Homo sapiens: one gene and its partner. The protein of the gene in region 2 purifies or fractionates together with the protein of the main gene of each other region. This does not show direct contact. Each region holds a gene or a part of one and is shown on either strand. Other genes may lie near its edges. The genes, in order: ASNS and PAFAH1B1.

What was found.
Region 1: the proteins of PAFAH1B1 (region 2) and ASNS fractionate together in Homo sapiens (co-fractionation; 2 studies listed by BioGRID). This does not show direct contact.

The regions. Positions count from the first base shown.
Region 1 is NC_000007.14:97,870,716-97,874,670, forward strand, and holds the start of ASNS (asparagine synthetase [glutamine-hydrolyzing]), read right to left. Parts: upstream 1,694-3,955; 5' UTR 1,636-1,693; intron 1,451-1,635; exon of another isoform or gene 1,004-1,450; intron 1-1,003.
Region 2 is NC_000017.11:2,666,371-2,670,253, reverse strand, and holds part of PAFAH1B1 (platelet-activating factor acetylhydrolase IB subunit beta), read right to left. Parts: intron 3,263-3,883; coding exon 3,056-3,262; intron 92-3,055; coding exon 1-91. UniProt on the Homo sapiens protein: Regulatory subunit (beta subunit) of the cytosolic type I platelet-activating factor (PAF) acetylhydrolase (PAF-AH (I)), an enzyme that catalyzes the hydrolyze of the acetyl group at the sn-2 position of PAF and its analogs and participates in PAF inactivation.

The DNA of each region.
Region 1 (3,955 bases), on a different chromosome or scaffold from region 2:
TCAATTTAAAACGGGTTAGGAAAGTGCTTTGAAAATCAAGTATGGTCATCAGGGAATCAGTTACCTAAGTCTTCTTAACGCTGCTTAGTGAATCCCTGTATTAATCCTGCTATAATAAATACATTCTAACCACTAAACTGGAGGGGAAAAAGGGAGAACAAAGAGGCATGTAAAGTACACTTATTTTTTCTAGTAGGAAAAAGCCAATTAAAACTATAACCTATTATTTTTATTGGAATCAGTCTTATAGGAGGGCAAAGTTCCTACTGCCGCTACCTGTTCTCAATATTTTTCTTATTTCTTCCTAAACTTCTAGAACAGTGCTGTCCAATAAATATATATGTAAGCCACATATGTAATTTTAAATATACTAGTAGCCCCATTAAAAGAAAAAGGTGAAATTAATTTTAAATAAACTTAACTCAGTATGTCCCAAATAGTAACATTTTAACATATATGTAATCAATATAAAATATTATCGAGCAGATATTTTACACTGTTCTTCCTACTCCAACGACAAAATCCAGTGTATTTAACACAATACATCTCAGTTAGGACTAGCCAGCACTTCAAGTGCTCAACAGTTACAGGTGGCTAGCGCCTACCGAACTGGACATGGCAGTTTCAGTGCATTTAATTTCTATTCCACTTAGTGCTACTTACAACTTCACCCTCTCCCTTTACTTTTATATTAAGATCTCAGTAAGTAACCAACTACAGACAGGTTCAAGCCCTACTTTACCTCTAATTACTCTTACAGCAATGCTATGAATCATGATTTAAAATTTAAAAAAAAAAACTGCTGTTAAATTATTAGTCAAGCGCCCAGGGCAATGGACAGTAAAGAAATAATGTAGGCCACGGGCCGAGATGAAAACTGTCCTTTTTATTTAAAGCTATAACAATCATCTGAAGCCAGCCCTGCAAAATGACAGCCATTGAAAAAGGCATGCTAGTTCTTTTGCCTTTTTCTGTACTTGGTCGCCTGTGTCCCTAAACAGACCTCTTCTCGGCAGGGTTTGCTCAGCAAGTCACTTGATGAGTCTTGCAGTCTACAGAGACAGGTGGGGACTGGTGGGGATGGCGGGGTGAGAGGGGAGGAGGAGGGTGAGCGGTCCAGGTGAGGAGGGGGGCAGTTGAAGGTGAAAGCAGACACCGAGACGGTGATAAGGCCGCAGTCTCTTCCTAGATCAGGACCACGCGACACCTGACTGCGCCCTGGCCACGAGCACGATCCGACCCGTCCGCCGCAGGGACCCGGACCGCGAAAATGTCCACAGGCTTCGACGCCACATAGTAAAAAAAAGTACACATATAACATTTACAGGGGCTCAAACTGCCGCTGCCTCCTCTCCGGAGCGGTCCGGCCTGCCGGCCGCGGTTCCCTCTCGATGCTTCAGGGAACCAGGACAGAAAGGTCCTTCCGCTAGCTGTCAGGTGCGTAACAATCGCTAGGCGTCCGCCCCGCCCTCCCTACCGCAGGAGCCGCAGCATCAGCAGGCGCCCGCGAACCGCGTCTGCCGGGTGCCAGGCTGAAGACCGCATCCTCCACCCCTTCCTTCCGGAGCAGCCCCAGGGCACGCGAGGAGGATGCTGGCGCGGGGCGCAGGGCACGGGGCGCAGGACCCGGCTCACCTGGGCGTAAGCAGGTCAGGGTGATGTGGCGGGCTGAGGCCAGGGATGTGGACAGCTTGACGGGCGGCGAGGCCGCTGGCGCTTATACCGACCTGGCTCCTGTAACGCGTGCGGGAAGTTTCATCATGCCTGCGAGGACCAACCAGCGCGCACAGGGGCGGGGCCGCGGGGTGTCCGGGGCGGAGCAGGACTAAGTGGGGCGGCGGAAGGGCGCAAGGAGGAGCTCTTTTGTTTCCAGCGCCTTGCGTCTCAGTGCGCCTGTTTAAGGATAGCCTCAGAGCTCCGCCCAGGCTACCTGCTGTTCTGACAATTAGGGAGGCTTCTGAACTTGGTTTGTTCTTCGGGAAATCATCACCGTTTTTTTGTTGCACTGCCGTCTGATTTATTATGCAGTGCAGAGAAAAGCTTGTCCTAAGAAACTGATGCGTGAGGCCTAAAATGTCCTTATAAGATCTATTAATAAATCGGGGCCAGGAGCGGTGGCTCACGCCTGTAATCCCAACACTTTGGGAAGCCAAGGCAAGAGGATCACTTGAAACCAGGAGTTCAAGACCAGCCTGGGAAACACAGCGAGATCACATCTCTATAAAAATTGGTGGCACACCATGGTAGTCCCAGCAACTCAGGAGGCTGAGGCAGAAGGATAGTTTGAGCCCAGGCGTTTGAGGCTGAGGTGAGCTCAACTCCAGCCTGGGCGACAAAGGGAGACCCCCATCTCTAAAACAATAAAATCTAAATCTAATTGATACATGAAGCCAAAATACATCAGTGGTCCTTAAACATTTTAAGTACAAAGATTCCTTTTAGAATCTCAAAAAGGATTTTGTCAACTTGCCTCCACAAGATGATTATGTGCTTTTAAGTATCTCTTTGATGAAGAAAAGACATCACGATTTTTAAAAAGTATCATAACACTCTTAAATCGTATTTTACTAATTACATCAGCACCGAAATAAATTGAGAAATAGTAAAATTATATGTGCACGACCTACTAAGATCAGACTACAGTCAATGCTTGGAGAGCATGCAGGTTTGATATCCCCATACAACGCATTCCTGACTAAATCAAAAACGTCAACAATTTAAAATCCCTAAGAACAGAAGATGGAGTAGTCGCTTAGTAGTTACAGGCAAGAGCAAAGATGAGAGATGACTTGTTCTAAGGTTCATTGTTGCTGGAAAGTTTTCAGTATCAAACAGACTTTGCTGTATCCTAATTGACGTACTTTAAACCTGAGAGCAATGTGGGAAAGTAGGTCTTCTATCTACATTTTACAAATGAAAAAATAAGACTCAGAAAAGTTGAGGGATTTATCCAAACACAGCTTCACAACAGTAGAGAACTGAGTCATAATCTGTGTAAACCCAGAGCCCATTTCCCGTAGCATCTTGCCTATGTAGTGAAAGACAGGTTCCCCTGCTTGGTGTGTTACCTAGTGTGCTTCCTTGTGCTGCGTATCTCCTGCTTGTCCGTCCAGAGCTCTACACTTCTCCACCTCACTTTCTATCCTGGCTCCCTTGCCCTCCTCTTTCAGGGAGAGTGTGCAAAGGCAGACATTTCAAGGAGATGCAAAAGGTGAAATTAAAATTGCTAATGAAGTTTTGGCACCATTGTCATTGATAACATCTTATCAGGAGACAGGGTTTTGAGATCAACCGGTCTGACCAAAGTTTATTAGGTGGGAATTTTCTCTTCCTAATAAGCCTGGGAGTGCTATGGGAGACTGGAGTTTATTTCACCTCTGCAGTCTCGACCATAAGAGACAGGTACGCCCCGGGGGGCCAGTTTAGAGACCTACCCCTAGGTGCGCATTCTCTTTCTCAGGGACGTTCCATGCTGAGAAAAGGAATTCAGCGATATTTCTCCCATTTGCTTTTGAAAGAAGAGAAATATGGTTCTGTTCTGCCTGGCTCACCGGCGGTCAGAGTTTAAGGTTATCTCTCTTATTCCCTGAACAATTGCTGTTATCCTGTTCTTTTTTCAGGGTGCCCACATTTCATATTGCTCAAACACACATGCTGTATAATTTGTGTACTTAACGCAATTATTACAGGTCCTGAGACGATATACATCCTTCTCGGCTGACAGGATTAAGAGATTAAAGTAATGACAGGCATAGGAAATCACAAGGGTATTGATTAGGGAAGTGATAAGTTTAGTCCATGAAATCTTTACAATTTATGTTTAGAGATTGCAGTGAAGGCAGGCATAAGAAATTACAAAAGTATTAATTTGGGGAACTAATAAATGTCCATAAAATCTTCATAATCCACGTTCTTCTGTCATGGCTTCAGCTGGTCCCTCCGTTTGGGGTCCCTG
Region 2 (3,883 bases):
GCTTGCCGCTGTGGTCGAATGAAATGTCCTGTACAGAGTCTGTATGTCCTTTAAGAGTTCGTTCAAAATCTCCAGTCTCATAATCCCACACCTGTCAAGTGAACAGAAAATTGGTTAACACCAACTCCATCACTCCTTTCTTGTTTCACATTTGCACTCAGCAGGCCAGTCTGGCACCTTACTGAGTAACTAACCGAACAAGTAACAAAGGATAACTATTTTAGAAATATTGTATCTCATGTATAAATTGGTCTTTTTTTCTACAGGGAAAACTAATGTTGCAATTATTAAAATCTATCTCTAGAACCACATTTATAAGGTTTCTATCACATAACCAACTGTAATAGTGATAAGGTATATAAAGTCACAAGACATAGTCCGCTCCCTGTCTCAGAGCAGGAATGACATGTAAATAAGGAAACTTAAGGGGAAGAAATAAGAGGAAAGAAAGAGAAAGAGATGGAAAGGAAAGGGAAAGAAAGGGGAAAGGGAAGGGGAAGGGAAGGAGCTTCAGAGGGCTATAGCAGGCATTTGTATGTAGAATATTTGAGGAACAATGGATGAATACTCGATCCTACTAGACCATCAGAACTCAGACATCTAAAGGGCCAAGGAAAGATTTCAGAAGATGTTAACTGTTCACGAATAGCAAATGAACAAGAGCATATGTCATTTTGAGTTAAAAAATGAAATATGGCCGGGCGCAGTGGCTCACGCCTGTAATCCCAGCACTTAGGAAGGCCAAGGCGGGCGGACCACGAGGTCAGTTCGAGACTATCCTGGCTAATATGGTGAAACCCCGTCTCTACTAAAAAACACAAAAAATTAGCCAGGCACAGTGGTGGGCGCCTGTACTCCCGGCTACTCGGGAGGCTGAGGCAGAATTGCTTGAACCTGGGAGGCGGAGGCTGCAGTGAGCCAAGATCATACCACTGCACTCCAGCCTGGGTAACAAGAGTGAAACTCCATCTCAAAAAAAAAAAAAAAATTCTAATTGCTGGCTAAATCACTATTATAGAAAACATTATAGTGAACATTTTTTAATATAAAAAAATTCTGTCCTCATTTTATAATACCTAGGTCAGACAGTAATGGGGAGAAACAATTAGTGGGTCAAAAAGTATAAACTTTTAAAGCCTTCATATACTCTATTAAATTGATATCCCGTAAGACTGTATCATATGTAATGAGAATGACTACTTTATCAAAATCTTATCATCACTGGGAATTCTTATTTAATAGGTAAAATACCTTGACAATTTGACACACATATATATGTATGTGTGTCTCACTCTTGTCGCCCAGGCTGGAGTGCAGTGGCGCGATCTTGGCTCACTGCAAGCTCCGCCTCCCGGGTTCACGCCATTCTCCTGACTCAGCCTCCCGAGTAGCTGGGACTACAGGAGCCCGCCATCACTCCCGGCTAATTTTTTGTATTTTTTAGTAGAGACGGGGTTTCACCATGTTAGCCAGGATGGTCTCGATCTCCTGACCTCATGATCCACCCACCTTGGCCTCCCAAAGTGCTGGGATTACAGGCATGAGCTACCGTGCCCAGTCCAATTTTTTTGTTTTTAAGACAGGGTCTCACTCTTCGCCCAGGCTGGAGTACACTGGCTCAATCATAGCTCACTGCAGCCTCCAACTCCCAGGCTCATGTGATCCTCCCATCTCAGCCTCCTGAGTAGCTAGGACTACAGGCATGCACCACCATACCTGGCTAATTTTAAGTAGAGACGAGGTCTTGCTATGTTGCCCAGGCTGCTCTCTAACTCCTGAGCTCAAGCAGTCCTCCCACCTTGGCCTCCCAAAGTCCTAGGACTATAGGCATGAGCTACCACACCCGGCCCATAATTTCAGTGTTTATTTCTTCTGCTGTTAGTAGTAAGGCCAAACCGTCGTTACTATTTGGTTAGTTGTAACTACCTTTTTGAGACAGTCTCGCTCTGTCGCCCAGGCTGGAGTGCAGTGGAGCGATCTTGGCTAACTGCAACCTGTCTCCTGGGTTCAAGCGAATTTCCTGCCTCAGCCTTCCAAGTAGCTGGGACTACAGGCGCACGCTGCCATGCCCAGCTAATTTTTTTGTATTTTAGTAGAGATGGGGTTTCTCCGTGTTGCTCAGGCTGGTCTTGAACTCCTGAGCTCAGGCAATCCACCCGCCTCGGCCTCCCAAAGTGCTGGGATTACAGGCGTGAGCCACCGTGCCCGGCCGATTGGTTATACTTTTGTAAATGAAACTTAATATCTGTAACTTACTTTGAAATAACCCTTAGGATAGAGGCATCTACCTAAATCTACCTATATTGCAACTATCTTATCTTTCTGTAGGTGGTTTATACAACGGTCATTTTATTGTGTCCGGAACAAAGGCAACTTAAAAACAACTCTTTTCCTAATTAAAAAAGCACAACATTAAAAGGTAATAATATTTTTACTGTGAAAAAAATTTTTTAATGAAATACGTAATTTATAAAATGAAAAGCTTGTATATTCCCACACTCCTGGAAAGCCAATTTTAAATACATCAAGGAAAGCCCAATTTAAATGAATCCTCTACTGAATTCTTTTGCAGTATAGATTCACCCTATCAATTACTAGTTTTGTCAATCAGTATTTCACACATAACCTCCGTTTAAAGGTAAGACACACACTTTTCATTCTCCAAGAACAAAAATTGTTCAAGCACAAGGTGATGTACTGACATCAACTCAGTTAGTGACACCCGACTTTCTCAAATTCACCATCAAACTTACCTGGCAGCATGCCTCTCAGGAGCCACAATGATATTTTATTCCAATTCTGTCTTTTAAGATTTAGAACCAAATCACACGTTTCAGAGTACCTCCTGTCCCTCTTCATAGGCCCTCATTTTCAGGATCTTTTAATTTTCTTCACCCTATTAAGTCTGCTTTTTTTTTTTGAGACAGAGTGTGGCTCTGTCGCCCAGGCTGGAGTGCAGTGGTGCAATCTCGGCTCACTGCAAACTCCGCCTCCCGGGTTCATGCCATTCTCCTGCTTCAGCCTCCCGTTAAGTCTGCTTTTAACAAAAAATTACCTTAATTGTAGCATCCTCTGAAGCAGAGACCATAACACTGAACACAGGATGGAAAATGACTCGAGTGACTGGACTCCTGTGACCACTCAATGCATATTTTTCTGGCGGACGGGGAATCCATTCTTTTGGGTCTCGTTTCTGACCAAGAGGTCCACCTGACGTAAATTCTTCTTTTGCTTCATTTAGCTTTGATTCTAATTCCATAACCTTGAAAAAGAACATGTAGTTACGTACAGATAGATTTCAATAAAAATAGCATGTGACATTTTAAAAAACTGCCTTTATTTTGCAACTATGTATGTAGGATACTTGAAAAAATTTCAGTAATCTCCAAAGCATTTGTCAAATTTAAATGAAAATTATTTATTTTGTACAGCATCAAAATCTAAGTCATGTGAGGAAACTAAAAATTGAGAAAAATTCAGTACAATTGCCTTAACTCTTTAACAAAAAGAAAAATTTCGATTTGTATCTGGTGACAGAGTCCTCTACTAATTAGAGAAGGGCAGTGAATTTGTCTTGGTCCCTCTAAGGCTGCTACTCTTAGTAAGTTCTTTCCAAACCACATTATATATGGTAATAATAATATTAATAAAAGCTAATATTTATTGAGCATCTACTATGTGCTAAGCATTTTTCTAAGAGCTTTATATGATGAACTCATAACAATGTTATTTACTTATTCTAACTTTGCCTATGAAGTATCCATTTTAGGACTGGAATATTATTTGTTGTATTTACAGATAAAAATAAAAGCTCAGAGATAAAAACAACTTGTCTACGAGCACATTTTAGTGTTCTTTTCCCAGCATTAATCACAATGGCTCC